Regions from separate parts of the Homo sapiens genome. Here region 1 is linked to region 2. Evidence: fine-mapped expression QTL. Tissue or cell type: whole blood. Region 2 holds a variant in brackets; the other region holds the start of a gene. All regions are shown on one strand. Distances are from middle to middle.

Evidence for each region.
Region 1: SLC71A2 starts here. The variant in region 2 is fine-mapped to the expression of SLC71A2 in whole blood (INTERVAL, PIP above 0.99).

What each region holds. Positions count from the first base shown.
Region 1 is chr9:94,365,708-94,381,548 of GRCh38, forward strand. SLC71A2 (solute carrier family 71 member 2) reads left to right here and starts at 8,862. Exons shown (of 12, transcript NM_032558.3): 1 at 8,862-9,220. The coding sequence starts at 9,113. RefSeq lists enhancers at 8,630-9,131, 9,132-9,631, 14,663-14,742 and a silencer at 8,681-9,080.
Region 2 is chr9:94,396,426-94,412,266 of GRCh38, forward strand. The region is part of intron 1 of SLC71A2 (solute carrier family 71 member 2); the gene reads left to right. Among named protein-coding and RNA genes, the nearest start is that of SLC71A2, 30 kb to the left of the region's middle. The variant T/A (reference allele first, on the strand shown) is at 7,127.

The DNA.
Region 1 (15,841 bases), 31 kb before region 2:
CACTTCAGGGAGCAGGTTAGCTGTAGGAAAGAGTACACACCTAGGACGAGGGCCTGGAAATTGGTCATCTAAAAGCTATCCATGGCCACGTAACCCCTGAAAAGTCTTTCCATATTACAAGGGGTATACATACCCCAGTTTGAACACCAAAGCTTAAGTTCTCTCAAGTTCACAGTATATGCCAGGTTGAGTGAATTAAAAAGTATAGCATCAGGGTAAACAATGATAGTGCTAGGCAAAATTACTCAAAACGTGGAAACAAAGTAAAGAGATTCCACTTCCATCAATGTCATGCTATAAGACGATTGTCTGACAAACCCATCCAAGGGTCTTCTGACTCTCAAAGGGTTTTGACTATTTATTTTTGATGTTATTACTGGTAGGCTCAGATATTTTACAGCCCTGTAAAGTTAGAAATTATCTCCTAAGAAACTGATGAGTTGGTTTTCTTTTCCATGGTGGAAAAATGAGATCACCCCAACTGCTACAGTTTAATTGCCCAATAGGACATTAACTAGGGCTGCATCTAATGTGCCAATATTAATTCATCCTTCCATTTTGTTCACATTGACTGTAATAATCCTCGTTTTTCAAATTCTCTTTTGAACCCACTTTATGGGTTCCCTTATTACCGAGATAAATAAAATGTTGGCATGTGCTCACTATCTCTTTGGATAAGATTATGTTTTTTGTTTGTTTGTTTGTTTTTGTTTTTTGAGACGGAGTCTCGCTCTGTCGCCTGGCTGGAGTGCAATAGTGCAATCTTGGCTCATGCAACCTCTGCCTCTCGGGTTCAAGCAATTCTCCTGCCTCAGCCTCCTGAGTAGCTGGGATTACAGGCACCCACCACCAGGCCCAGCTAATTTTTGTATTTTAGTAGAGACGAGGTTTCTCCATTTTGGCCAGGCTGGTCTCGAACCCCTGACCTCAAGTGATCCACCCACCTTGGCCTCCCAAAGTACTGGGATTACAGGCGTGAGCCACTGTGCCCGGCAAGATTATGTGTTTTTTTGTTTGTTTTTTGTTTTTTTTAAACATTCAGAGAACTATATGTTGACAGAAATCTAAACAAAGTGTACAGAAGGTGCAAGGAAAGGTTTTGCAATACGGAAAGGAAACTTGGGGAAAACCTGGTGGAGACCATACCTGAGCTGAGTCTTAACAGGAGTTAGAATACCTATAAACAGGAATTAGATAAATGGCTGGAGGAGAAGGAGAAAGAGGCTATTTCAGACTGAGGGAGCCTGACAGATGATGGGAGCCCAATGATGTGGGTGTAGAAAAATGCCAGGAGATAAGGCTGACAGGTGGGGAGAGGCCAGAGCCTGAGGCATTCATGTCATGCTAACGCACCAGAGCCTTTTCCTTCATGAAAACGGGATATCTTGAAGAATTTTTAGCAAGAAAGTGATGTAGTAAGATAGATTTGTATTTTAGAAAGACCATTTTTTTCCCCAAACTTTTAGGTTCAGGGGTACATGTGCAGGTTTGTTATATAGGTAACCTAGTGTCATGGGGGTTTGTTGTACAGATTATTTTGTCGCCCAGGTACTAAGCCTAGTACCCAATAGTTATTTTTTTGAATCCTCTCCCTCCCCCCACCCTCCACCCTCAAGTAGTCCCCACTGTCTGTTGTTCGCCTATTTGTGTCATTGAGTTCTTATCAATTAGCTCCCACCTATAAGTGAGAACATGTGGTATTTGGTTTTCTGTTCCTGTGCTAGTTTGCTAAGGATAATAGCCTTTAGCTCCATGAGTGATCCAGCAAAATATATCATCTCATTCTTTTCTATGGCTGCATACTATTCCATGGCATGTATGTACCACATTTTCTTTATCCAATCTGTCATTGATGGGCATTTAGGTTGATTCCATGTCTTTGCTATTGTGACTAGTGCTGCAGTGAACATTCACATGCATGTGTCTTTATGATAGAATGATTTATATTCCTCTGGGTAATATACTCAGAGATGGGACTGCTACGTTGAATGATAGTTCTGTTTTTAGCTCTTCGAGTAATCGTCACAGTGCTTTCCACAATGGTTTGCACTAATTTACACTCCCGCCAACAGTGTAAAAGCATTCCCTTCTCTCTGCAACCTTGTCAGAATCTGTTATTTTTTGACTTTTTAATAATAGCCATCCTGACTGGTGTGAGATGGTATCTCATTGTGGTTTTGATTTGCATTTCTCTAATGATAAGTGATATTGAGCTTTTTTTCATATGTTCATTGGCCGCATGTATGTTTTCTTTTGAAAAGTGTCTGCTCATGTCCTTTGCCTACTTTTTAATGGGGTTGGCTTTTTTTTCTTGTTGATTTGTTTAAGTTCCTTATATTAATAGAGCCTGGATGTGAGACTTTTGTCAGATGCATAGTTTGCAAAAACTTTCTCCCATTTTGTAGGCTGTTTACTCTGTTGACAGTTTCTTAACTATGTAGAAGCTCCTACATTTAATTAGATCCCATTTGTCAATTTTTGCTTTTGTTACAATTGCTTTTGGTGAGAAAGACTAATTTTGTGTGAAGAGTACAATGCATAAGTGGAAATGAACCCAAAGATGTACAGCAAACTGCTGAGAAATGGGAAGGGTATGAACTAAGGCAGTAAGCAGGCATAGAACAATCTGACATATAAAATAAATAGGGCACAACAGTTGCTTTGATGGAGTGGTGAAAGAGATAGGAGGTGAGAAAGGGCATAAGCAAGATTTGATCATTGACTATGCGAGGGTGACAAGGAAAAAGAGGGGCTGACCTACATCAGCAATTCCTGCTTCTGGCATAGAGATGGTATCACTTCTGTTGCGAAGACTACAGGGACAGCAGGCAGCATGCTGTATATATTTCTAGCATGTGAAACGGAAGTAGGGCAAGGAAAAAAGTCCTTACGTTCCTACTTTTTACATGGTTCACACACATTGTAGAATAAACCCTTTGCCTGGGTCACGTAAAATTCTACCTTTTTATTATTATTATTATGCTTTAAGTTCTAGGGTACGTGAGCACAGCGTGCAGGTTTGTTACATGGGTATACATGTGCCATGTTGGTTTGCTGCACCCATTAACTCATCATTTACATCAGGTATTTCTCCTAATGCTATCCCTCCCCCTGCCCCCCAACTCACAACAGGCCCCCATGTGTGATGTTTCCTGCCCTGTGTCAAGGTTTTCTGTCCTTGTGATAGTCTGCTCAGAATGATGGTTTCCAGCTTCATCCATGTCCCTACAAAGGACATGAACTCATCCTTTTTTATGGCTGCATAATATTCCATGGTGTATATGTGCCACATTCTCTTAATCCAGTATATCATTGATGGACATTTGGGTTGGTTCCAAGTTTTTGGTATTGTGAATAGTGCCACAATAAACATATGTGTGCATGTGTCTTTATAGTAGCATGATTTATAATCCTTTGAGTATATACCCAGTAATGGGATCATTGGGTCAAATGGTATTTCTAGTTCTAGATCCTCGAGGAATTGCCACACTGTCTTCTACAATGGTTGAACTAGTTTACACTACCAACAGTGTAAAAGCGTTCCTATTTCTCCACATCCTCTCCAGCACCTGTTGTTTCCTGACTTTTTAATGATCGCCATTCTAACTAAAATTCCACCCTTTGTATAAAACATTTGCCCGGTCCATTTGACTCTGAATCACCTTGGTATGTATAATTGCCAAATATACTTTTTTTCCAGATGGCAATTCACATCTGCCTTTTAGCTTAGTGCTGAATGGAAGGCAAATAATTGAGGAGGTTCAGTAAGGATAGTTCTCCATTAAAAACAAAAGAAAAAAAAAGAGAAAAAAAAGCGCCAACCTAACTGAATACTCTCAGATAGGACTGATAATGCATTGCAAATACTGAAAACAAGTTTTCATTAGAACATTATCTTAAACTAAAATCTGTTGCCAGTCGCAGTGGCTTACCCTTGTAATCCCACCACTTTGGGAGGCCAAGGCGAGCAGATCACCTGAGTTCAGGAGTTTGAGACCAGCCTGGCCAACATGGTGAAACCCCATCTCTACTAAAAATACAAAAGTTAGCCGGGCGTGGTGGTGGGCACCTGTGATCCCAGCTACTCAGGAGGCTGAGGCATGAGAATTGCTTGAACCTGGGAGGCGGAGGTTGCAGTGAGCTGAGATTGTGCCACTATACTCTAGAGTGACAGAGCGAGACACCGTCTGAAAAAACAAAAAAATTATCTAGGTGTGGTAGTATGTGCCTGTGATCCAGCTACTTGGGAGGCTGAGACAGGAGAATTGCTTGAGCCCGGGAGGTGGAGCTTGCAGTGAGCCAAAATTGCACCACTGCGCTCCAGTCTGGGCGACAGAGCAAGAATCCATCTCAAAAAAAAAAAAAATTATCTGGGTGTGGTTGTATGCACCTGTAATCCCAGCTACTTGGGAAGCTGAGACAGGAGAATCGCTTGAGCCTGGGAGGCAGAGGTTGCAGTGAGCCAAAATTGCACCACTGCACCCCACACTCCAGCCTGGGTGAGAGAGCGATATTGCATCTCAAAAAAAAAAAATCTGTGAAAATAAGTTTATCTTAACACATTGTTATAATTGCAATTACAAAGTAGTGCTCGGAACAAACAAAATTAAGTGAAGTGTGTTTTAAACATTTAGACAATTATCGTAAGACAGTTTGTTATCCTTTCACACAGGGAACAGTAGACGGGTGGAGAAACAGCAACAAAGATACCATGTGAAGGTATTGCTTTATACACCTTGGCTTGGATCTGGGCCATGCAGGTGCCAGCTCTGGATTTCCTTCCCAGCAGACAACTGCCAGTACAAGGAGACTCACAGACATTATTGAACAACCCAATTGCATCATACTTTAAAAAAGATTCAAATTATATATAAAAAGTGATGAATTCAATACCACTTCCCCCTTTCTGTTGATTACAAATTGACCACACAAGGGAATATTTAGGGTCTTGTGGCAGTAGATGCATAACTACCTATTTCTCTTGAAGTCCTGGTCTCAAGTGATCCTCCCACCTCGACCTCCCAAAGTGCTGGGATTACAGGCCTGAGCCACTGCACCTGGCCCATCCATTTGTCAAAATCCACAGAACAATACACTGCAGAGAGTTAACTTTATGCAAATTAATGTGGGATCTTAGGATAGAATGGCCAGCACGACAAATGAACTTAATTATATTACAAAGGTATGGCATAACCTCACCAAAGTGAGTGGGGAAAAAATAAATTGAGTAAATAAATAAAAGTTTGATTGATTACTCAATCAAAAAAGAATTGATTTGAGTAAATAAGAAAGAAATTGAATTGATTTGGAAAACTGTTTTGACTGGCTACTTTCAGGATAAAAACAAAAAGAACCGTACATAAACACTGTAGTTGGAAAACTTGCTTCCACAGAGTTAGAAATTCTGAAACTACATGTATTGTTAACACACACACACACACACACACACACACACACACACACACACACAAGTAGAGAGAGAGAGAGCACAGCACCCAGATCCATATCATTGCTGGGAGAATTAGTGGTGCTGCCCATAGACTCTACTCAGAAAGGACAACTGGAAGCTTGTGCGTGGTCTCTCGTGGACTCTGCTGCCTCTTACCTTTGCTATTTTCATCTGTATCCTTTCACTATAATAAACTGTAACTATGAGTAAAATAGCTTTTTGGGGTTCTTCTAGTGAATCATTAAACCAGAGGATAGTCTTGGGGATTAAAGACTCTCAGTTATTAGATACCCTATTTTAGCATTAAGTTTAACCCAATCTTAAAATCCAGCTTTAAGACCAGATGATTAATTTATTTAAAGCGAAAAATCTCAACAAAAATATTAAATAGAAATCAGCAAGGCTAGGCACGGTGGCTCACGCCTATAATTCCAGTACTTTGGGAGGCTGAGGTAGGAAGATTGCTTGAGCCCAGGAGTTGGAGAACAGGCTGGGCAACACAGTGAGACACTGTCTCTACCAAAAATTAAAAAGGTAGCCAGGCATGGTTTTATGCACCTGTGGTCCCAGCTACCCAGGAGGCTGAGGTGGGAGGATCACTTGAGCCCAGGAGGTCAAGGCTGCAGTGAGCTGTGATCGCGTCACTGAACTCCAGCCTAGGCGACAGAGCAAGACTCTGTATCAAAAAAAAAAAAAAAAAAAAGATCAGCAAATTGTTTGAATTTCTCCTCTTAGGAAAAAGAACTGTATTAGCATATGTTACTCTGATATAGCTGATATGGCAATATCAACCATCAAAGATATAATGGTATACTTATCTGGTATAATTTATAAGTTTGCCTCAGTAGAATCACAGCCTATTCTGTAGTTAAAAATATACACTGCTAGTATTATAGCAAACTTTAGTGGCTTTTGTGATAAAGAAAATAAACTTCAAAAAACTCCATTATTCCCTCTAGGATAACTTTATTGTAAGTCTATTTAAGAAAACAGTCCAGGCTGGGCATGGTGGCTCATGCCTGTAATCCCAGCACTTTGGGATGTTGAGGCAGGCGGATCACTTGAGGTCAGGAGTTGGAGACCAGCCCAGCCAACATGGTGAAACCCTGTCTCTACTAAAAATACAAAAATTGGCTGGGTGTGGTGGCAGGTGCCTGTAGTCCCAGCTACTCGGGAGGCTGAGGCACCACAATCGTTTGAACCGGAGAGGCAGAGGTTGCAGTGAGCTGAGATCGCGCCACTGTACTCCAGACTGGGCAACAGAGCAAGACTGTCTCAAAAGAAAACAAAAAAACAGTTTACAAACTTTTCTGTTTCATGGATACAGGAATCAGAAACTGATACCCAAGCTCATAAGTGGCATAAACATAATACTCAAACAGCATAACATAATACATATATTCCCTCTGTGTTTTGAAAACTATTTGTTAAAACAATCATTCAGAAAAGTAGACAAATCAGGCTGGGTGTAGTCGCTCACGCCTGTAATCCCAGCACTATGGGAGGTCGAGGCGGGTGGATCACCTGAGATCAGGAATTCGAGAACAGCCTGGCCAACATGGTGAACTTGTCTCTACTAAACATACAGAAGATAGCCAGGTCGTGGCATGCACCTGTAATCCCAGCTACTCGAGAGTCTGAGGCAGGAGAATTGCTTGAACCCAGGAGGCACAGGTTGCAGTGAGCCGAGATCGAGCCACTGATCTAGGCTGGGCGACAAAAGCGAAATTTCGTCTCAAAAAAAAAAAAAAAAAAAGAAAAAAGACCAGGCCGGCTCGGTGAGCCGAGGGGGGCGGATCACTTGAAGTCAGTAGTTCAAGACCAGCCCAGCCAACATGGTGAAACCCCGTCTCTACTAAAAATACAAAAATTAGCCGGGCATGGTGACGCGCACCTGTAATCCCAGCTACTCGGCAGGCTCAGGCAGGAGAGTCGCTTGAATGCGGGAGGTAGAGGTTGCAGTGAACCTAGATCACGCCACTGATCTAGGCTGGGTGACTGTAGCCTGGGTGACAGAGCAAGACTCTGTCTCAAATAAATAAATAAATAAATAAAAGTAAAGACTTCTGCAAAGTGTGTGTGTGTGTGTTTGGGGGTAGTGGGTGGGAAGCGAAAAAGAGGCTTTTTTTTTTTTTTTTTTTGGAGACGAAGTCTCACTCTTGTCACCCAGGGTGGAGTGCAGTGCACCATCTCGGCTCACTGCAACCTCCGCCTCCTGGGTTCAAGCGATTCTCTTCCCTCAGCCTCCCAAGTAGCTGGGATTACAGGCATCCGCCACCATGCCCGGCTAACTTCTGTATTTTTAGTAGAGACGGGGTTTCACCATGTTGGCCAGGCTGGTCTGGAACTCTTGACCTCAGGCGATCCGCCCACCTCTGCCTGCCAAAGTCCTGGGATTACAGGCGTGAGCCACCACGCCCAACCTGAAAAAATTCTTAAATGAAATGACTTTAATTCAATTAAAATTACTAATCCTGTTAATAGAAATAATTTTATTCTTTTTTCTATTGATGTTTGTAAAAAGATTTTTTTTTTTTTTTTGTGAGACAGAGCCTCACTCTGTCGCCCAGGATGGAGTGCAGTGACGCTATCTCGGCTCACTGCAACCTCCGGCTCCCAGGTTCAAGCTATTCTCCTGCCTCAGCCTCCCGAGTAGCTTGGATTACAGGCGTGCGCCACCAAGCCCGGCTAATTTTTTTGGTGTTTTTTGTTTTTGTTTTTGTTTTTTAGTAGAGACAGGGTTTCACCGCGTTGGCCAGGCTGGTCTCTAACTCCTGACCTCAGGTGAACCAGCCGCCTCGGCCTCCCAAAGTGCTGGGATTATAGGTGTGGGCCACCGCTCCAGGCCTGTAGGCTTTTTTATATTTCAGTATTAGGTGCATATCTTTCAAAATAAATAAACATAAGCCAGGCTTTTCCAACTGCGTCCTACACATTCTACAAGATATTAATCATGTGTCAAGAATAAAAAGTGTTGTGTTCAAGTACGTTTGGGAAACATTGCTAGTATATTATTTTCTTCTTAGAGAACCATAGAAAAACTTGAGAGGTTGGCGGGTTGGCGCAAACCAAGACCAAAACTGAACTGCAATCACTACCAAACCCCCACGAGTTTGCCCCTCCCCGCTTGCTAGCCTCAGTCCAGATTCTCCGGAAAAAGAAATCAGTCGTACGGGCTCTCGAAATGACGTACTTCCCGCGCGCCGCGAAGTCCTGATGCCAAGGGGCCAGTCGCGAGGTAAAGGAGGGGTCTCTGAAGTGGGCGTGGCGTCGCTGGAGGCTACTCAGGCGCGGGACTCGTTCTCGAGGCGGGAGCTGAGGTGCGGGGCGGGGCCTCCTGCCCGGCGCCGGCCTGTGGGGAGGCGGGGCGGGGCACAGTCTCTTAACCGTGCAGCCCGCCCCTGACGCCGCCGGTAACTGCGAGAGTCGGGGTCGGTGCGGTTTGATAAGTGGTCGGTTCCTGGAGCTGCGGTCTTCTGCTAGCCTGATCCGCAGCTTCAGCCTCCGCCGCCTCCTCAGCCCTCGGCGCCGCCGCTGGCGCCGCCGCCTGACCCGCAGGCCGCCGCGGGCCGCAGAGCCCATGAGGGCGCGGGCACCGCCGCCGCCTCCGCGGCGTCGCCGTCGTCCCGGAGCGCCCCGGGCTGGCGCGGGCATGGCCGCGGCATGAGCGTGGAGCCGCCGCCGGAGCTGGAGGAGAAGGCGGCGTCGGAGCCCGAGGCGGGAGCCATGCCGGAGAAGCGCGCGGGCGCGCAGGCCGCGGGGAGCACCTGGGTGAGCGCGGGCGCGGGGCCCGGCTGCCTGAATCCCGGGGAGGCTGGGTGGGGTCGCACCCAGGGCCCGCGAGCCCGCCGCTCCGGGCAGGGGCTTCGGCTCTTGGAAAGTCGGTCCTTTTCTGGGGGGGGAGGCGAATTCATCACGAATACAGGTTTTTCCTAGTGACTGCTCATCGCAGACAAAACTTTACAGGATTTGGTTATTGTTTCAAAAGGCGCTAGACATGGGACAGTGAATATAAGTAGTAATTTGGTTATTTCGGAGTTCTCCGTCCCTGTAACAGTTGATAACAGTTTTCCTGGCGCAGTTTCTCTCCAAGTCTACATGGAAAACAGGTAGGGAGCATTTGAATCAGACCGTCGACGGGGAAGTTGGCGGCAGATGCCGGGCAGCGCCTTGCTGCTCCTTCCGTGTTCTCCCGGCGTCGGAGGGGCGGTCCTAGCGATGGGGAGCAGAGTTTCCAGGGGCGTTGCTGGGGACCAGCCGAGGAGCAAGTTAGGCTGGCCTCTTTCTCCAGTTTTACTTTTGCTTGAGGTCGAGATGGCTTCTGACAATGATACAGAAGCAATTGAGCCCTGACTTAACTGGCCTGGTTTCGGCAGAACAGGCCTTGTCTGTGTCAGTGGTTTCATATGGTGCAATATTAAGCCTAGAGGGTTTGTCGTTTCTTCAAGGCCTAAGTTTAAAAAGGATTTTTTTTTTTTGGTCTTAGGACCTGAAATATAGAGAATGTTACAGTGAATAGAAACTGACACAATGGGAAAGTTTTTCCAAAGAAAAGTAGAAATTTTATGGAAATTAAATACATGTTTTTGGCTTTAGATTTTTAGCTTACATATCTGATTTTGTGTTTAGTTGAAGAATGCTAAGTGTTTACATGAACGTATTTGGGGATGTAAATCCCTATTAGTAGGTTGGGAGGGCAGCTGAAGCAGAAGGAGCAGTAGGTAGAACGGATCCGGCAGAGCTGGTTTTTAGTCCTGGTTTTGCCTGAACAGTGCGCACTCTGGACAGGGTATTGAAACAGCCTTGCCCCTCAGTGCCTCCTCTGTAAAATGAGGACTTAGTTGAAGTCCCCTCCCAGCCCAAGTGACTCCCTATTTTGAAAAGCATTTCAAAGTTAAGATCTCTGTAATATGAGAAGCTTATTTTGTCGAGGGAGAGAAATTCTGTATAATTGCTTGCTCTCATTTTGATTCGCGTTAAGTAGACTTGTCCTCTTCCTGCTTGCTACACAAAACTAAAGCACCAGTTCCTCCTCCTGTCTCATGAATTGATGGACAGTAATTACTAACCAGTGGCCCAGCTAGTAACCTGCGAGGTAGCTTCCTTCATCCCTTCCCATACTTAAAACAATCAGAAAGTCTAGCTAAGTTTATTAGATACAGATTTTAGGTTTTTATCCTCTCCTATGCATTCTTATGCTCAGAATTTCCTCAGCATTTTTGACCCAGACTTTGACTATCTCTTTCAAGACCCTTGCTCACCCCAGCGTCAGTCCACCTTGCACGTGGCTGAGTAGTGTGTTCTAGCATGTAAAGATGATCATTACTGCTGTCCTTAATTTTTTTCATTGGCTCCTTATGGCTTACAGAATAAAAAAATAAATTGGCAGGTTGAAGCATTATTAGTATAGTGATTAGACGAGCATGCTTGAAATCCCAGTTTCCACAGTTCGATAAGTTAACGTAACTCCTGATTAATAATGGCATTTACCTCAGAGGGTTGTGAGGGTTGCTGCAACTTGGCATCTAGTAAGCCCCTTAATACATACTAATGTTGTTAGTATTTTGTAATATTCTTTGCATGTATGATTGAATGATCACAATCTATAGGTGATCTGACCGTGATAAAAGTAGTTGTCTCCCATTTCCTAGTGTTGACAGGAACTAGACCCCAACCTAGAAATTAAAGTTGCTAAATTTGTGTGCTTAAGAGCAGAAACTTGCGAGGGATGTTTACTCAAAGAAACCTAGACTCAGTTTATTCCCCAGTTCTTTCTCCGTTGGATCCTGATGGTAACCTAATTTTGGGCACAGGTAGATTCCTGCCTGGTCTTTCCTCCTCTCTGAGAACGCATGGAGTTGATGTTAATTGTGATGAATACTGAGTTTTCTTGGTGTTTGCTGTAGATAGTGAGAAGGCTAGCATGAGCAGGTAGCAGTGTTTTTCTGAGTGTGTGGACGTTGGGAGAACAGTGAATGCTTTTAATCATATATGTTTGTGTCATATGCTAGTACCCCTGAATTATGTGTTTTTCCTGTTTGCAGTTTCTAATGTCACCTCCGGGTGCTGTGTCCTATAGCCCCTATATGAATTGATTTCATTTTAATGTGTTGGAATTTCCTTACAGCTTGGTTTCAGTGACACTCATGATTTCAGGTTCTTAGATGCTACTAGTAATCACAGGGAAGATTGTCCAGCTGATAACTTTTTTCTTTTTTGTTTTCTGTGTTTTTTTTTTTGAGATAGGGTCTTGCTGTCATCCAGGCTGCAATGGCCAGTCATGGCTCACTGCAGCCTTAAATTCTTGGGCTCAAGCAGTCCTCTCACCTCAGCCTCCTGAGTAGCTGGGACAACAGATATGTGCCACCATGCCTGGCTTTTTTTTTTTTTTTTTTTTAATTTATTTTTTGTAGAGATGAAGTCTTCCTGTTTCCCAAGCTGGTCTCAAACTCCTGGGCTCAAATGATCCTCCTGTCTCAGCCTCCCAGTGCTGGGATTATAGGTTAGAGCCATGATGCTTGGCCTGACAACTTTTTTCTACCTTATTTGGCAAAGAGATATATTGACCAGAAAAAGATACTGGCAGAGAGATGTCATAATCTGAAAAATAAAAGAGAATCAAGTATTTACTCCAAGAGATCATTTCCTTCTAGAAAAGGGAGGTGTGTCGCCGGGCACGGTGGCTCACACCTGTAATCCCAGCACTTTGGGAGGCTGACGTGGGCGGATCACAAGGTCAAGAGATCAAGACCATCCTGGCCAACATGGTGAAATCCTGTCTCTATAAAAATATAAAAGTTAGCTGGGCATGGTGGCAGGCGCCTGTAGTCCCAGCTACTCAGGAGGCTGAGGCAGGAGAATCGCTTGAACCTGGGAGGCGGAGGTTGCAGTGAGCTGAGATCGTGCCACTGCACTCCAGCCTGGCGACAGACTGCACTCCAGCCTGGCGACAGAGCGAGACTCCATTTCCAAAAAAAAAAAAAGGAGGTGTATGTTAGCTGTTTGCGTTGCTGTAAAGGAATACCTGAGAATACCTGAGACTGGGGAATTTATCAAGAAAAGTGGTTCTTTAGGCTGTACAGGAAGCTTAGCACCAGCATCTGTTTCTGGTGAGGGCCTCAGAAAGCTTGCAATCAGGACAGAAGGCGAAGGGGAAGCAGCTTATCACGTGTTGGGGAGGGAGCAAGAGAGAGAGGGGAGGAGGTGCCAGGCTCCTTTTAGCAATGAGATCTTGGCCGCGTGCGGTGGATCACTTAAGGTCAGCAGTTGGAGACCAGCGTGGCCAACATAGTGAAACCCCATCTCTACTAAAAATACAAAAATTAGCCGGGTGTGATGGTGCATACCTGTAGTCCTAGCTACCTGGGAGGCTGAGACAGGAGAATTGTTTGAAACTGGGAGGCGCCACTGCACTCCACCCTGGGTGACAGAGTGAGACTCTGTCTCAAAAACAAACAATAAACAAAACCAATCAGATCTTGTGGTAACTAATGGAGCGAGGACTCACTCATTACTGTGAGAAGGACACCAAACAATTGAGAAGAGATCAGCCCCCATGACCCAAACAGCTGCCACTAGACCCCACCTCCAACACTGGGGGTCACATTTCAACATGAGATTTGGAGGAGACAGATATCCAAATGCTATCTGCCTTAAAAACAAATTGGATAGTTTGGTTTTCTATTCTGTGGAAGAATTTGTGTAAGATTGGTAATACAGTTCTAGAACTTTATAGTTCTTGGCCTTTTGGAGATTAATTCTAGAACAGCGTAGGTTTTCTGTTTGATTTTTAGTTCTGTCAGTTTCAGTAAGTTGTGTTTTGTTGGGAATTTGCCCATTTTATCTAAAATGTCAAATTAGTTGGCATAAAGCTGTGAATAATGACCTCGTAGGCTCTTTTCACCTTCTGTAGGGATTCTTGGTGTGCATTTCCTTTTTTTTTTTTTTGAGACGGAGTTTCACTGTTGTTGCCCAGGCTGGAGTGCAATGGTGTGATCTTGGCTCACTACAGCCTCTGCCTGCCGGGTTCAAGCGATTCTCCTGCCTCAGCCTCCCATGTAGCTGGGATTACAGGCTTGTGCCACCATGCCCGGATAATTTTGTATTTTTAGTAGAGATGGGGTTGCACCATGTTGGCCAGGCTGGTCTTGAACTCCTGACCTCAGGCGATCCACCTGCCTTGGCCTCCCAAAGTGCTGGAATTACAGGCGTGAGCCACTGCGCCTGGCCCTTTTTTTTTTTTTTTTTAAGAGGTGAGGCCTCACTCTGTCATCCAGGCTGGAGTGCGGTGGCGCACAATCATAGCTTGCTGTAACCTTAAACTCCTGGGTTCAAATGATCCTCCTGCCTCAGCCTCCCTAGTAGCAAGGACTATAGGCACGTGGCACTATGCCTGGCTAGTTTTTAAATTTTTTTGTAGAGATTGGGTCTCACTGTGTTGTCCAGGCTTGTCTTGAACTCCTGGCCTCAAGTAATCCTCCAGCCTCAGCCTCTCAGAGTGCTGGGATTATAGGCATGAGCCACCATGCCTGGCTGGTACTCTGCATTGATAACTTGTGCTTTGTCTTTCAAAAAATATTTAATTTTGTAGGATCTTCTGGATAAATATTCACAAATATTGCACGTGTTGATAATTTTATATCTTATTTTGATGTTAAATGAACTAGAATATCCAGGAAAGTATTCAATGGTAATGGTAAAAGTGCATACAACCTCCTCTACGTAACAGGAATACATTAATTTTTTCTTACTGTTAGGTATCCTTTTGGCTGTATACACGTAAACATGCTTTATTACCCTATGGAAGCATTTTTGAAATTTCTCAGTTTCAGCTGGACGCGGTGGCTTACGCCTATAATCCCAGCACTTTTGGAGGCTGAGGCAGGCGGATCACGAGGTCAGGAGATTGAGACCATCCTGGCTGACGCGGTGAAACCCTGTCTCTACTAAAAATACAAAAAATTAGCCAGGCGTGGTGGTGGGCGCCTGTAGTCCCAGCTACTTGGGAGGCTGAGGCAGGAGAATGGCGTGAATCTGGGAGGTGGACCACGCTTGCAGTGAGCAGAGATCGTGCCACTGCACTCCAGCCTGGGCGACAGAGCGAGACTCTTTCTCAAAAAAAAAAAAGAAATTTCTCAGTTTCTTACATGTGTTCTCTCTTCCCCTTTTCCTCTTCCCTTCCTCCAGTTCAGCATGTCATAGAACTTTCACAAGTGGTTATGAAATCTTAGATATGCTATGGAGAAAGAGGTTATGGCATAGCAAGAGCATTGTTCTGTGAGAATTGGAGAGAAATCTATTCTTAATGTGTATTTATTTATTTATTTTTGAGACAAGAGTCTTACTGTTTCATCCAGGCTGGAGTGCAGTGGTGTGATTATGGCTCAGTGCACCCGGGAACTCCAGGGCTCAAGTGATCTTCCTGCCTCAGCCTCCTGGTAGCTGGGACTACACGTACGTCCCATCATGCCTGGCTAATTTTTAAATTTTTATTTGTAGAGATGTGCTCTTGCTTTGTTGTCCAGGCTGGTCTCGAACTCCTGGCTTCAAAGAATCCTCCTGCCTTGGCCTCCCAAAGCATTGGGATTGCAGGTGTGAGCCACTGTGCCCAGCATTAGTCTGACTTTTTTATAGTTAGCTTTGTATTTGCTTGTCTTTTTTAAACAACCTTATTCAGTTTAATTGACATAAAATAAACTGTGTGTTTGGAGTGCACAGTTTTGTGTTGTGACATATCTATACACCTGTGAAACCATTATCATAATCAAGATAGTAAACATATTCATCACCCTCAAATGTTTCTTTTTACCTCCCTCTACACCTCCATTTCCAGGCGATAATTTATCTACTCTGTCACTATATATTGGCTTGAATTTTCTTCCCCCTTTTTTTTTTTTTGAGATGGAGTTTCACTCTTGTTGCCCAGGCTGGAGTGCAATGGCGTGATAACGGCTCACCACAATCTCCGCCTCCTGGGTTCAAGTGATTCTCCTGCCTCAGCCTCCCAAGTAGTTGGGATTACAGGCATGCGCCACCATGCCAGGCTAATTTTGTATTTTTAGTAGAGACGGGGTTTCTCCATGTTGGTCAGGCTGGTCTCAAACTCCCGACCTCAGACCATCCGCCCGCCTCGGCCTCCCAAAGTGCTGGGATTACAGGCGTGAGCTACTGCCCCCAGCTGGTTTGAATTTTCTAGCTTTTTTTTTTTTTTGTTATTTTATAAATACAGCATATTCTCCTCTTTGGCTTTTAAAAAGTTCAGCATAAATTATTTTGAGATTTATCAGTGTTATGTAAATCGGTAGTTCATTCTTTTTAATTACTGAGTAGTAGTCCATTTGTGGATGAACCACGATTTGTACATTCCCTTGTTGATGGACTTTCGGCTTCTCA
Region 2 (15,841 bases):
AATGTCTTGAACCCAGGAGGCGGAGGTTGCAGTGAGGTGAGATTGCACCATTGCACTTCAGCCTGGGCAACAGATGGGGAGACTCTGTCTCCAAAAAATTAAAGTAAAATGAAAACAAAGTGGGGTGGGGTTGGCAAACTTTTTTTGTAAAGGACCTGGTAATAAATGTTGTAGGGTTTTTTTGGCCATATGTTACTCAGCTATGCCAGTATAGCACAAAAGCAGCCATAGACAGACAATATGTAAATGAACAAGCACTGCTAAATATCAGTGAAACTTTATAAAAATAAGCAGTGGACTAGATTTGGACTGTGGGCTGTAGTTAGCTAACCCCTGCTCTAATATATTTTTTTTCTTTTTTTGAGACGGAGTTTCGCTCTTCTTGCCCAGGCTGGAGTGCACTGGCAGGATCTCGGCTTACCACAACCTCTGCCTCCCGGGTTCAAGCAGTTCTCCTGCCTCAGACTCCCAAGTAGCCAGGATTACAGGCATGCGCCGCCACACCCAGCTAATTTTGTATTTTTAGTAGAGATGGGGTTTCTCCATGTTGGTCAGGCTGGTTTTGAACTCCTGACCTCAGGTGATCCACCTGCCTCAGCCTCTCAAAGTGCTGGGATTATAGGCGTGAGCCACCGTGCCCGGCCTCTAACATTTAATAGTACTAATTTTTCCTCTGTCCCTTTCTTTTTCTCCTTCAGGATGTTTTTATATTCTTGTCCATTTATTTTTTAAAATAAAACTTTTTTATAGAATAGTTTTATATCCACAGAAAAATTGCAGATAGCATAGAGTTTTCCTATACTCCATACCCATATTCCCTTATTATTAACATTTTACACTGGCATGGTACATTTGTCAAAATTAATGAGCCAGTGTCCATGCACTATTATCAGCTAAAAGCAGCCAGGCATGGTGGCTCACACTACTTTGGGACACTGAGGCCAGAGGATCACTTGAGACCAGGAGTTCAAGACCAGCTTGGGCATCGCTCTTCAAACAAGCAAAAATTACCAGGCATGGTGGTGTGTGCCTGTAGTCCCAGCTACTTGGGAGAGTGTTTGGAAAAAAAAAAAGGAAAAAAAAAATCCACTGCCAAAGAAAAAACCCCTAAAGTCCATACATACTTTACTGAGATTTCTTGTATTTTACTGAATGTTCTTTTTCTGTTCCAGTATCTCATGCTACTACATTACATTTAGTTGTTGTGTCTTCTTGGGCTCCTCTGGACTGTGACAGTTTCCTAGGCGCTCCTTGTTTCTGATGTCCTGGACAGTGTTGAGGAGGACTCATCAAGTGTTTTGTAGAATGTCTCTCAATTGAGATTAATCTTGTTGTTTTTCTCATGATTAGAGTGGAATTACGGGTGTTTGGGAAGAAGCCCATAGAGATGAAGTACCATTTTCATTATATCATATCAACAGTATGTGCCACTGTTGATGTTAACCTTGATCACCTGGCTGAGATACTGTTTATCAGATTTCTCCACTGTAAAGTTGCTCTTTTACCCGTTTCTATACTGTACACTTTGGAAGGAAGTCACTATGTGCAGCCCACGCTTTCAGAATGAGTAGTTATATTCCACCTACTTGGGGGCAGAGTGTCTGCATAAATTATTTGAAATTCCTCTGCATGGGAGATTTGCTTGTTCTTTTCTATTTAATCATTTTATCAGTATGAACTCATAGATATTTATTTTGTACTTTGGATTATCCCCAAATCCAATATTGCTTTATTTTCTTGTTCAAATTGTTCTAGCATTGGCCATTGGGAGTGCTTTGACATATATAACCCTATCTTTGTTTTTTTTTAAAACACTTATGTTCCTGGACCAAACTGAGAGTTGGGCTGCTACTTCTTAAGGCCCAATAATGAGATGCAGATGAACTGGGGAGGAAGAAAGTTTTTATTTCTGCAATGGGTTACAGGGAGAATACCTGGAAATTATCACCAGGCCAACTCAATATTACAAAGTTTCCGTAGCTTATATACCTTCTAAGTTATATGTCTACCTGTAAGTGTGCATTCATCTTAATGATTAACAACTTTTGGTCCATAACTAAGGTCTGAGTCTTGAAGACCTTCCTCTGGAGCCTCAGTACATTTACTTAATCTAAATGGGTCCAGGTGCTGGAGTGATTACCCTTATCTTGTCTCCTGCTAAATCACGGAGGTTTGGGAGTTCCTTCACACCCCAATAAACTTGTTTGTGGAGGCCTGGGAAGTTTCTTTAGACCCACAGTAAAACTTGTTTAATCCTAAATGGGCCTTAAGAATTCCTTCATTATTTTGTCATGCTTTAAGGCCCAGGAAAGGCCTAGGCAAAACTCTTGGTGGGCTTTTGTTAAATTCCAGCCTTTGCATAAGGGTACTGGCTCTTCCCCTCCCCCCCGTCGCGCCCTCCGAGATGGAGTCTTGCTCTGCTCTGTCACTGAGGCTGGAGTGCAGTGGGGCAGTCTTGGCTCACTGCAACCTCCGCCTCCTGCGTTCAAGCGATTTTCCTGCCTCAGCCTCCAAAGTAGCTGGGATTACAGGCACCTGCCACCACACCCAGCTAATATTTTTGTATTTTTAGTAGAGATGGGGTTTCACCATTTTGGCCAGGCTGGTTTCGAACTCCTGACTTCAGGTGATCCGCCCACCTTGGCCTCCCAGAGTGGCTAGGATTACAGATGTGAGCCATCGTGCCCGGCCGGCTCTTTCAGCTTTTAACATTTAACTTAACTACTCAGTCTGTACAGAAACAGTTGTTTTGGGGGCCTGAGTTAGTGAGACCTGGCTTGCCATGCTTATATTCTGGGATTACAAGATACTCCACGCTCCTCTTACATATTTCCCACTCTAGTCCCAGAATTAGCTGTTTCTCCAAGGAGCCCTGGTTTCTTTTATTTGAGAATGGCATTTGAAACCAAGATGTGTCACACTAGATATGCTTATTGCCGTTGAGTTTCTAGGGTGTAGTTTCTTTCAGGCTCTTTCAGCTGATAGAGTGTGAGGAAACAGGTGTATATAATACACACATTTGTAAGTATTTCCATTTGTGACCATCTGTATCTATATGAAGTTAAAAATGAGTTCATAATGATGTGCTCAACTCTAATCCATGATTACATGGATCATTCTTGCTTCCTTCTCTTGTTTATTTGTAACCTTCCACTCCAGCAGTGAGAAACCTGGCTTCCACCATCTGCCATCCAGTTTATTTAATTGGTCAGTCACAGCATACATGGTTCCAGAATTGTTAATCTTTATTTCCATGGGGTACAACTTTCAACTATAGCATAACAGTGTTTAAGTTACAGAAATGCCAGGTGGTCGATCTAGGTCTTGTTTCTCGCCACACAGAAAGCCAATCACTGAGGTGAGTATTGCCGGGGAAAAAGCCTTTTTTTTTTTTTTTGAGATGGAGTTTCGCTTTTGTTGCCCAGGCTGGAGTGCAATGGTGCGATCTCGGCTCACTACAACCTCTGCCTCCTGGGTTCATGCGATTCTCCTGCCTCAGCCTCCCGAGTAGCTGGGATTACAGGCGTGTGCCACCACGGTGGCCTGGCTAATTTTGTATTTTTAGTAGAGATGGGAGGTTTCCCCATGTTGGCCAGGCTGGTCTCAAACTCATGATCTCAAGTGATCCGCCCGTCTAGGCCTCCCAAAGTTCTGGGATTACACCCAGAGCCACTGCGCCCGGCCAGAGAAAAATTTTGCCTTTTTATTTAGGTGTTGCCTACTGAAGAGAATGGGAGATCAGTTTCGAATCTGCCTCCTCGACCAACTAAAACTGGGGAGTTTATGTACCGAAAAAAGGAATGTAACTATGTGTGAGGAAAACAGCAATTAGGAAAAGGATAAGGAAGCAGTCCTGACCTATGAGGGGAAAGAGGTGTCTGGGGTCTCATTGTCAAATGGTGATTTGGTGAGTTTCAGTCCGTTGCCTGAGGAAAGAACTCATTGGAGACAAATATAAGTTTTAGGTTTTAAAACTGGAAGGGTCAGTTTCTATGTTTATTCAAAGACCTGTACATATAATTTCTATGGGGAAATTGAGCCAGTTTCATTTATGCGCAACTTTTTTTGCCTCCAGTCTTAAAGGAAAAAAAAAAAACAACTGATAATATTTGTTGCCTATGATAAAATTCCAGCTTCCAAATGAAAAAAAAAAAAAGACTCCACTATTTCCCAGAGTTACTTGGATCACTGCCTTTCCCCATACCCCCTTTAGTGAGGTTGTTTCCTGTGTTTGTACTGCAATTAGATTCTTTTGCTACATTCTGCGTTCCATCCTGGGATTCTCCACCTCTGAAATGTTTTCTAAAAGTTAACATGTACTGAGGCTCACTCTTGTTCTCTGAAGTTCTGCTGGTTTTGAAAAATGCGTGGTGCCGTTTACCTATCATTAAAATATCATACAGAACAATTTTACTACCTGAAAGTGTCCTGTGCTTCATCCATTTAACCCTACCCTCCAACTCCAGCTACCACTGATCTGGTACTATCTATAGTTTTGCTTTTTCCGGAATGCCCTTTAAATGGTATCTTACACTTTGTAGCCTTTCAGACTTGCTTCTTTCATTTAGCAATATGCATTTCAGATCCATCCTTCTAACAATCTTGTTGTTTTAATTTGCATTTTAAAATGACAGTGACACATAATGAACATCTTTTCTTTTCCTTTTTTTTTTTTGAGACGGAGTTTCGCTCTTTCATGTGGGGTCAACTGCAATAGAAAAGAGGACCCTCAAACACAGGCTAATTTTTTTGTTGTTGTTTTTGAAACGGAGTCTCACTCTGTCACCCAGGCTGGAGTGCAGTGGCGCGATCTTGGCTCACTGCAACCTCCGCCTTCCGATTTCAAGCATTTTCTCCTGCCTCAGCCTCCCAAGTAGCTGGGATTACAGGCGTCCGCCACCACAACCAGCAAATTTTTTTGTATTTTTAGTAGAGATGGGGTTTCACCGTGTTGGCCAGGCTGGTCTTGAACTCCTGACCTCAGGTGATCAAGACCTGGGCCTCCCAAAGTCCTGGGATTACAGGCGTGAGCCACTGCGCCCAGCAATGAACATCTTTTTATAGGCATATTTGCCATCTGTATATCATCTTTGAGGAGACTGTTGCGGTCCTGTCACCCCTCCCCCTTTTTCTTGTTGACGATCGGGATTTATTACCTCATTTAACAAGAAATCTGATGGAAAGACAGTTCCAGGATTGGTCCTTGATTTTGCGTCAAGGACCAGGTTCTTTCCATCTTCAGTGTGTTGATTTGTCTGGCTCTCATGGTCTCAAGATGGCTGCCATAGTTCAGTTACAGGAAAGGGGTCCCAATCCAGACTCCAAGAGAGGATTCCTGGATAGACCTCGAACAAGAAAGAATTCAGGGCAAGTCCCTAAAGTGAAAGCAAGTTTATTAGGAAAGTAGAGGAACAAAAGAATGGCTACTCCATAGACAGAGCAGCCCTGAGGGCTGCTGGTGCCCATTTTTATGGCTGTTTCTTGATTATATGCTAAACAAGGGGTGGATTATTCATGCCTCCCCCTTTTAGACCTATAGGGTAACTTCCTGACGTTGCCATGACATTTGTAAACTGTCATGGCACTGGTGGGAGTATAGCAGTGACGATGACCAGAGATCACTCTCATTTCTGTCTTGTTTTTGGTGGGTTTTAGCCAGCTTCTTTACTGTAACCTGCTTTATCAGCAAGGTCTTTATGACCTGTATCTTGTGCTCCCTATCTTCATCCTTTGAGTTAGAATTCCTTAACTGTCTGGGAATACAGCCCAGTAGGTTTCAGTCTCATTTACCCAGCTCCTATTCAAGATGGAGTCGCTCTGGTTCACACGCCTCTGACAGTTCTAGGCTTCACATACAGTTAAAGTATTCCAGAGACAGAAAAAGAATCTCTGCTCTCTTTTCTCTCTATTGCATTTTAAAAATTGAGATACATTCACGTACCATACAGTTCATCATTTTAAAAGTATACAGTTTGGTTTTTTTAATATATATTCACGGTGATGTAGAACTACCACTATCTAATTCTAGAACATTTTCATCTCCCCCAAAAGAGTCCCTATATCTTTCCATTAACTGTCACTCTCCATCTCTCCCTTTTCTCAGATCATTTGCCCATTTTTTAATTGGGTTGTTGTATTAGTGACTTGTAAGGGCGCTTTCTATGTTCTTAAGTTCTTTATCAGATAAGATTGTTGCAGATACTTTCTTCCAATCTGTGGCTTATCTTTTCATTCACTTACCAGTGTCTTTTGCAGAGCAGAGGTTTTTAATTTTAGTGAAGTCCACTATATCAACTTTTTCTTGCATGTGGCATGACTTTAGTCTTGTACCTACAGACTCATCTTGAAACCATGTGACCAAGTTCACTTATATTTTCTCCTAATAATCCTCTAGAAGCTAATAGTTTTGCATTTTATTTTTAATGCATGATGTAGTTTGAGTTACTTATTTTTATTTTAGTGTATATGCATAACATAGTTTTTAAAGTTTCAGTTCAATAGCATTAAGTACATTCACATTGTTGTGTACTCATTACCACTATCTGTCTCTAGAATTTTTTCATCATCCCAAACTGAACTCTGTGCCCATTAAGCAATAACTCCCTAGCTCCTGGTAGTCACTATTCTACTTACTGTCTATGAATTTAATTACTGTAGGTACCTCATATAAGTGAAATTATGCCATATTTGATTTTTTGTGACTGGCTCCTTTCCTTTCCTTTCCATTTCCATTTCCATTTCACTCTCGTTGCCCAGGCTGGAGTGCAATGGCGCGATCTCGGCTCACTGCAACCTCCGCCTGCCGGGTTCAAGTGATTCTCTTGCCTCAGCCTCTCAAGTAGCTGGGATTACAGGCGCCCGCCACCACGCCTGGCTAATTTTTTTGTATTTTAGTAGAGACGGGTTTGCACCATGTTGGCCACGCTGGTCTCAAACTCCTGACCTAAGGTGATCCACCCACCTCGGCCTCCCAAAGTGCTGGGATTACAGGCATGAGCCACCGTTACCAGCCGTGACTGGCTTATTTCACTTACTACAACGTCCTTAATGTTCATCCATGTTGTGACAGTCAGTTTCCTTTTTTTTTTTTTAAGGTTAAATGATATTCCATTGTATACATGTACCA[T/A]ATTTTGTTTAAACATTCATAAGTTGAACACTTGGGTTGCTTCTACGGTTTGGCTGTTGTGAGAGAATTCTGTGAATTTGGGTATATAAAAATCTGTTCAAGTCCCTGCTGTTGTTTCTTTTGAATAGATAGCCAAAAGTGGAATTGCTGGGTCATGGAGTAATTCTATTTTTAATTTTTTGAGTACCTGCCAAACCATTTTCCATAGGGGCTGCACCATTTTACATTCCTACCAACAGTGTGCAAGGCTTCTAATTTCTTCATGTCCTTGCCAGCACTTATCTTCTTATTTAAGAAAAAAATCACAGCTGCTGTAGTCTGAATGTGTCTCCCAAAATTCATGTGTTGGGAACTTAATTCCCAGTGCAGGAGTATTGCGAGGTGGCGCCTTTTGGGAAGGGTTTATGTCATGAGGGCTACACCATTATCAATGGATTAATGCTGCTATTAAAAAGGGCTTGTGGGAGAGGGCTCATCCTCTTTTGCCCTTCCACCTTCTGCTTTGTGAGGATGCTGTAAGACTGTCCACCCCAGATGCTAATACCTTGTTTTGGACTTCCCTGCCTCCAAAACTGAGAAAATAAATGTCTGTTATTTATAAACTACCCAGTCTCAAGTATCCTGTTATAGCAGCACAAAACAGATTAAGACAGTAGCCATCCTAATGAGTATGTGGTGATACCTCATGGTTTTGATTTGCATTTCCCTAATGATAAGTGATGTGTATCTTTTCTTTTTTCTTTCTCTTTTTTGTTTTTTTGGGGGACAGATTTTTGGTCTGTCTCTTAGGCAGGAATGCAGTGGTGCAATCTTGGCTCACTGCAAACTCCGCCTCCCGGATTCAAGCAGTTCTTCTGCTTCAGCCCCCAGAGTAGCTAGGAACACAGGCATGCGCCACCATGCCTGGCTAATTTTTGTATTTTTACTAGAGACAGGGTTTCACCATGTTGGCCAGGGTGGTTTCAAATTCCTGATCTCAAGTGATCTGTCTGCCTCAGCCTCCCAAAGTGCTGGGATTACATACATACATGAGCCACCGCGCCCGGCCTATGTGTATCTTTTCATGTGCTTCTTGGCCATTTGTGTATCTCTTTTAGAGAGGGCTATTCAGTTTCCTTGCCTGTTTTTAATTGAGTTGTTATTTTGTCTGTGAGTTGAAAAAGTTTATTATATATTCTAGGTATTAATCTCTTATCAGATATGTGATTTGCATGTATTTTGTGCCATTCTGTAGATTGCCTTTTCACTGTCTTGATAGTATCCTTTGATATATGAAGGTTTTTCATTTTGATGAAGTTTGATTTTTATGTATTTTTTCTTTTGTTGGCTGTTCTTTTGGTGCCATATCCAAGAAGTCATTGTCAAATCCAATACCAGGAAGCTTTCCTCCATGTTTTCTTCTAAGGGTTTCATAGGTTTTGCTTTTATGTTTAGATTTTTGGTCCATTTTGAATTAACTTTTATATATGGTTTAGGGTAGCGATCCAACTTCATTCTTTTTAATGTGGATATCCAGTTTTTCCATCACCATTTGCTGAAAGACTGTCCTTCCTTTCTCATTAAATGGCCTTGGTACCCTTGTTGCATATCATTTGTGACATATATGTATTTACTTCTGGGCTTTTTATTTCCAGGCTTTTAATTTATTTTTTTAAAAGACTAGGCCGGGCGCAGTGGCTCATGCCTGTAATCCCAGCACTTTGGAAGGCTGAGGCGGGCAGATCACGAGGTCAGGAGATCGAGACTACCCTGGCTAACATGGTGAAACCCCGTCTTTACTAAAAATACAAAAAATTAGCCGGGCATGGTGGCGGGCGCCTGTAGTCCCAGATACTCGGGAGGCTGAGGCAGGAGAATGGCATGAACCCGGGAGGTGGACCACGCTTGCAGTGAGCGGAAATCGTGCCACTGCACTCCAGCCTGGGCGACAGAGCGAGACTCCGTCTCAAAAAAAAAAAAAAAAAAAAGACTGGGCTTTGCCATGTTGCCCAGACTGGACTTGAACTCCTGGGCTCAAGTGATTCTCCTGTCTAAGCTTCCTCAGTAGGTAGAAATACAGGCACACACCACCATGCCCACTTGGGCTTTTTATTCTGTTGGTCTACATGTCTGTTTTTATGCCAGAACCACACTGTTTTGATTGCCATATGTTTATAGTAAGTTCTGAATTCAGAAAGTGTGAGATAATTTTTTTTCTTTTTCAAGATTGTTTTGGCTTTTGGGGGTCCCTTAAGATTCTATATAAATTTTAGGATGGAGTTTTCTCTTCTTGCAAAAAGCATCATTGGGATTTTGATAGGACTGGCATTGAATCTGCAGATCACTTTTGGTAACAGTGATACCTTAACTATATTAAATCTTTAAATCCATGAACATGGGATGTCTTTATGTTTATTTATACCTTCTTTAATTTCTTTCAGCAGTGTCTTACAGTTTTAAGCATAGAGGTCATTCACCTTCTTCGTTACATTTATTCCTAAGTATCTTATTCTTTATGATGCTATTGCAACTTGAATTTTTTTTTTTTTTTTTTTTTGAGGCTGGGTGTCACTCTTGCCCAGGCTGGAGTGTAGTGGGGTGATCATAGCTCACTGCAAACTTGAACTCCCAGTTTCAAGTGATCCTCCCACCTCAGCCTCCTGAGTAGATGGGACCACAGGTGTGCGCCAGCACGTCTGGCTAAGTTTTTTGATTATTATTATTTTTTGAAACAGAGTTTCACTGTTGTTGCAGGCTGGGGTGCAGTGGCGCAATCTCGGCTCACCACAACCCCCGCCTCCCGGGTTCAAGCGATTCTTCTGCCTCAGACTCCCATGTAGCTGGGATTACAGGCAGGCACCACCACACCCAGCTAATTTTGTATTGTTAGTAGAGACAGGTTTTCACCATGTTGGTCAGGCTGACCTCAAACTCCCAACCTCACATGATCTGCCTGCCCCAGCTTCCCAAAATGCTGGGATTACAGGAGTGAGCCACTGTGCCCAGCCGTTTTTTGATTATTAGTAGAGACAAAGTCTCACTATGTCGCCTGGGAGGGCCTCAAATTCCTGAGCTCATGCTGTCTTCCTGCCTTGGCCTCCCAAAACATTAGGATTACAGGTGTGAGCCACTGGACTCAGCCCAATTTGAATTTTCTAAGTTTCATTTTAACATTGTTAATCTTTAGTGTATAGAAATGCAGCTGATTTTTAATGTTGATTTTGTATCTTGTAACTTTGTTAAATTCATTTATTAGTTGTAACAGGTTTTTTGTGTGTGGAATTTTTAGGGTCTTATGAGATCTTGTCATCAGCGAACAGAGATAATTTTACTTCTTCATTTCCAGTTTGGATGCCATTTCTTTCTTTTTCTTGCCGTATTACTCTGGCTAGAATTTCCAGTATTGTATTATACTGAATAGAAGTGGGGAAAGTGTGCATCTTTGTCTTGTTTCTGATCTTAGAGGAAAAGTTTCCAGCCTTTTTCCAGCCTTTCCCCATTGAATATGATGTGAAGTATGGGTTTTTCATATTTGGCCTTTATTATTTGAGATAATTTTATTCTTTTCTTAGCTTTCTAAGTGTTTTTATTATGAAAGTGTGTTGAATTTTGTCAGATGCTTTTACTGCATCAATTAAGATGATTATGTGGGTTTTTCCTCTTTATTTTAATGTGTTGTATTACATTGATTGGTTTTCATAGGTGAACTGTTATTACATTCTTAGAATAAGTCCTTGGTTATGGTGTATAACCATAATAAACTGCTTAATAAACTGTTGAATTTGGTTTGCTAATATTTTGTTGAGGATTTTTGCATCAATGTGCATAAGGAAAATTGGTCTGTAGTTTTCTTTTTTTTTTTTTTTGAGATGGAGTCTTGCTCTGTCACCCAGGCTAGAGTGCAGTGGCATGATCTCAGCTCACTGCAACCTCCGCCTCCCAGATTCAAGCAATTTTCTGGCCTCCGTCACCTGAGTAGCTGAGATTACAGGCACGCACTACCACGCCCGGCTAATTTTTGTATTCTTGGAAGAGGCATGGTTTCACTATGTTGGCCAGGCTGGTGTCGAACTCTTGACCTTGTGATCCACCCGCCTCGGCCTCCCAAAGTGCTGGGATTACAGGCATGAGCCACTGTGCCTGGCCCTATAGTTTTCTTGTAGTGTCTTTGTCTGGCTTTTTTAGAGTATGGCAGTACTCCCTGATCTGTGATTTTGCTCTCTGTGGTTTTGCTTTCCATGGTTTCAGTTACCCGAAGTGGGCTGAGGTTTGATAATCCTAAATGGAAAATTCCAGAAATAAAAATTCATAAGTTTTAAGTTACACGTCACATTCTGAGTAGTGTGATGAAATATTTTGCCATCTTCATCTTGCTCCATTCCTTCGTCCAGCATTTACACTCTATATGCTGCCCATCTGTTAGTCAGTCAGCCATCAGTTATCGGATGGACTGCAGTATCACAGTGCTTGTGTTCAAGTAGCCCTTATTTTATTTAATAATGACCAAAAGCACAAGAGGACTGTGCCTAATTAGAAATTAAACTCAATCATAGGTGTGTGTAGGAAAAAACAGTATATACAGATGGTCCCAAATTTGATGGTTGAACTTAAGATTTTTCAACTTTACCTTGATGCAAAAGCAATATGCATTGAGTATGCACCTCTACTTATGGTTGGGTTGTCTGGATAAGCCCATCGTAGGTTGAATATATCATAAGTCTAAAGCGACTTTCAAGTTAGTATATTTTCAACTTACAGTCGGTTTATTGAGACTTAACCCCTTTGTAAGTCGAGGAACAGCTGTATAGGGTTTGGTACTTTTCGAGGCATCCACTAGGGATCTTGGAATGTATCCTCCTTGGATAAGGGGGCAACTACTGTAATGCTGGCTTCAAAGAGTGAGTTAGAAAGTGCTCTCTCCTCTTCATGTCTTGGGAAGAGGTTTAATTCTTAACTCTGCTGGAATTCTGGGAGGTTTTTGATTACTGATTCAATCTCCTTACTAGTTATAGGTCTATTTATATTTTCTGTTTCTTCATGATTCATTTTTAGTAGGTTATGTGTTTCTAGGAGTTTGTCCATTTTGTTTCATTTATCCAGTTTGTTGGCTAATTGTCTATGAGACTCCCTTATAATCCTGTTTCTGTAAGGTTGACCATTATTATCTTCTGTTTCATTTCTGGTATTAGTAATTCAGGTCTTCTGTTTTCTTGGTTTGTCCATTAGTTTGATATTTTCATTAAATCAATTTTGGTTTTGTTGATTTTCTCTTCCCTTTCCTTTTTCTGTTTTTTTTGTTTGTTTGTTTTTTGAGACGGAGTCTCGCTCTGTCACCCAGGCTGGATTGCAGTGGCACGATCTCTGCTCACTGCAAGCTCCCCTGCCTCCTGGGTTCAAGCGATTCTCCTGCCTCAGTCTCCCAAGTAGCTGGGACTACAGGCATCCGCCACCACGCCTGGCTAATTTTTTTTATTTTTAATTTTTAGTAGAGATGGGGTTTTACCATGTTAGCCAGGATGGTCTCGACCTCCTGACCTCGTGATCCGCCTGCCTCGGCCTCCCAAAGTGCTGAGATTACAGGCCACTGCGCCCGGCCTCCTTTTTTTTTTTTTTTTTTTTTTTTTTTAAGGCAAGGTTTCACTCCCTTCTCCCAGACTGGAGTACAGTGGTATGATGATGGCTCATTGCACCCTCAACTTCCTGGACTCAGGCGATTCTCCCACTGCAGCCTCCCAAATAGCTGGGACTATAGGTGTATGTGCCACCATGCTTGGGTAAACTTTTTCTTTTTTGTATTTTTAGTAGAGACAGGGTTTCACCATGTTGCCCAAGCTGGTCTTAACTTCTTAACTCCTGGGTTCAAGTGTTCTGCCCACCTTGACCCCCCAAAGTGCTAGGCTCACACTGCACCCGGCCTGATTTTGTCGATTTTTCTGTATTGCTTTTCTATTCTGTATCACGTTTGTATCTGCTCTGATCTTTCTTTCCTTGCTTTGAGTTTAGTTTGCTCTCTTCTAGTTTCTTACAGTGGAAAGTTAAATTATTGATTTGAGATCTTTTATAACCACACATCTACAGCTGTACACTTCCTGTTAAGCGCTGCTTTAAGCTGCATTCAACTGGTGTGTTACATTTTCATTTTTGTTCAAATGAAAGTTTTGTAACTTTCCTTGTGATTTCTTTTATCTGTTATTTAGGAGTATGTTTAAATATTTTAATATTCATGAATTTTCCAAATTTTCTTAAGTTAATGATGTCTAATTTCATTCTGTGTGGTCAAGAACATAGTTTGTATAAATTAACTCCTTTTAAATTTATTCAAACTTGTTTTACAGTCTTCTCATGTGCACTTGAGGATTTATATCTTGTTGGGAAGAGTGTTCAATAAATGTCTGTTAGGTTTAGTTAGTGTTCAGTGTTACTGAAGTCTTCTATTTCTTGCTGATCTTCTAATTGTTCTATCAGTTACTGAAAATGGGTATTGAAGTCTCCAGCTATTGTTGATTTGTGTATTTGTGCCTTTTATTTTTAGAGAGTATTGATGCCGGTAGGTGAGGACGATGGCTTTTTTTTTTCCTAAACGAGACTGGAGTCTCACTTTGTGGCCCAGGCTAGAGTGCAGTGGTGCAGTCATAGCTCATTGTAGCCTTAAACTCCTGCACTCCAGCGATCTTCCTGCCTCAGTCTCCTGAGGAGGTGGTACTACAGACACATGTCACCATGCCTGGTTAATTTTTAAATTTTTTGGAGAGATCGAGTCTCACTGTGTTGTCTATACTGGTCTTGAACTCCTAGCCTCAAGTAAATCTCCCACCTGCCACCTGAGCCTCACAAAGTGCCAGGATTACTGGCATGAGCTACTGCACTGGGCCTATTTTTTTCCCCCCCTAAGAGATGGGGTTCTTGCTGTGTTGCCCAGGCTGGACTTGAACTCCTAGGCTCAGGTGATCCTTCCAAATAGCTGGGACTACAGGTGCACACCACCGCTCCTGGCTGAGAATGATAATTTGATGTTGCATTGTATAAATGTTTTTAATATTGATTCTAAAGGGGTCCTATAAATCAATATGAAAGATTAAAGTCACCAATAAAAAATTGACAGAAGATGAACAGGCAGTTCACAGAAAAAGAAACGCAAATTCCTAATCATAGGAAAGAAGCTCAGCTTCATTGGGAGTAAGGGAAATACAAAATAAAATTAAATAACCATTAAAAAAATCAAATTAGCAAAAATTTTAAAATTATTATTATTTGAGATGGAGTCTCACTCTTTCCCCCAGGCTGGAGTGCAGTGGTGTGATCTTGGCTCACTGCAGCCTCCGCCTCCTGGGTTCCAGTGGTTCTCCTGCCTCAGCCTCCTGAGCAGCTAGGATTACAGGCACTTGCCATCACGCCTGGCCAATTTTTGTATTTTTAGTAGAGATGGGGTTTTGCCATGTTGGCCAGGCTGGTCCTGAAATGCCTGCCTCGGCCTCACAAAGTGCTGGGATTACAGGCATGAGCCACTGCACCTGGCAAAAAATTAAAAAATTATTATGCAGTCTTAGGATATGGCAGGACAGGTATCCTCCAGAATTGTTAAGGAGACTGTAAGTTGTTCTTTTTTTAAATTGTTAATGAGACTGTAAGTTCTTTTCTTTTTAGCAATCTGTTTAAAGCTTTTTTTGTGGTTACCTTTACATATTATTAGGAATACCTCCCCATATTCATCACCCTACTGCAACAAGGCCAATCTTGTTTTACCTGCATTTTCTGTATACTGGTTTATGTCTTGACTGCATTGAATCCAGGTTTTTTGTTTCACTTTGTTTTTTCAAAGAATACTTCTTAAGTGGTGGTATTTTTTTGTTGTATTACATCATGTGGCAAATGATCTCTGTCTGTGATGTTATGATTGATCAGGTTTCAGGTGTTATCAGTTTGATTATTCCCTTGTACCTTGTCAGCTTTTACCCAGTGATTTCAGTGGCCATTAATGGTCATGGCCTAGATTCACTATTTCAGTAAGGCTGTGAAGTGGCAGGATTCTAAGTTAATTATTCCTTTCTTCATTCGTTAGCCGATTTTTTTTTTTTTTGAGACAGAGTTTCGTGCTTGTTGCCCAGGCTGGAGTGCAATGGCGTGATCTTGGCTCACTGCAACCTCCTCCTCCTAGGTTCAAGCCATTCTCCTACCTCAGCCTCCCTAGTAGCTGGGATTACAGGCACCCGCCACCAAGCCTTGCTAATTTTTGTATTTTTAGTAGAGATGGGGTTTCACCATGATGGCCAGGCTTGTCATGAACTCCTGACCTCAAGTGATCCGCCTGCCTCAGCCTCCCGAAGTGCTGTGATTATAGGTGTGAGCCACTTCCCCTGGCCCAGAGTTAATTTTTGCTGTTACAGTGTTTTAGCTTTGTGCATATGGCACCTCATAGTTTAGGGATAAAGTAGAATTGTTGCTTCAAAGGGTAAATATGTAATTTGTCTAGATGTTGCTGAATTTTCTTCCATAGTGGTGTACCATTTTTCATTCCTATTTGCAGTTTGTGTTTCTTTTCAGTTGCTTCATCAATAGTTTACAAACGTTTGAATTTTTGAACTTTTAATGTCTGATACTGAGAACTTGTGTTTGAATTTAGCTTAATTTTGCATGTTTCTTAATACAAGTGAGGCTACTAAGGGACATTTGATTTCAGTGAACTGGTTCATATTTCTTGCCAATCTTTTTATTGGGCTGTTAGTCTTTTTCTTAACA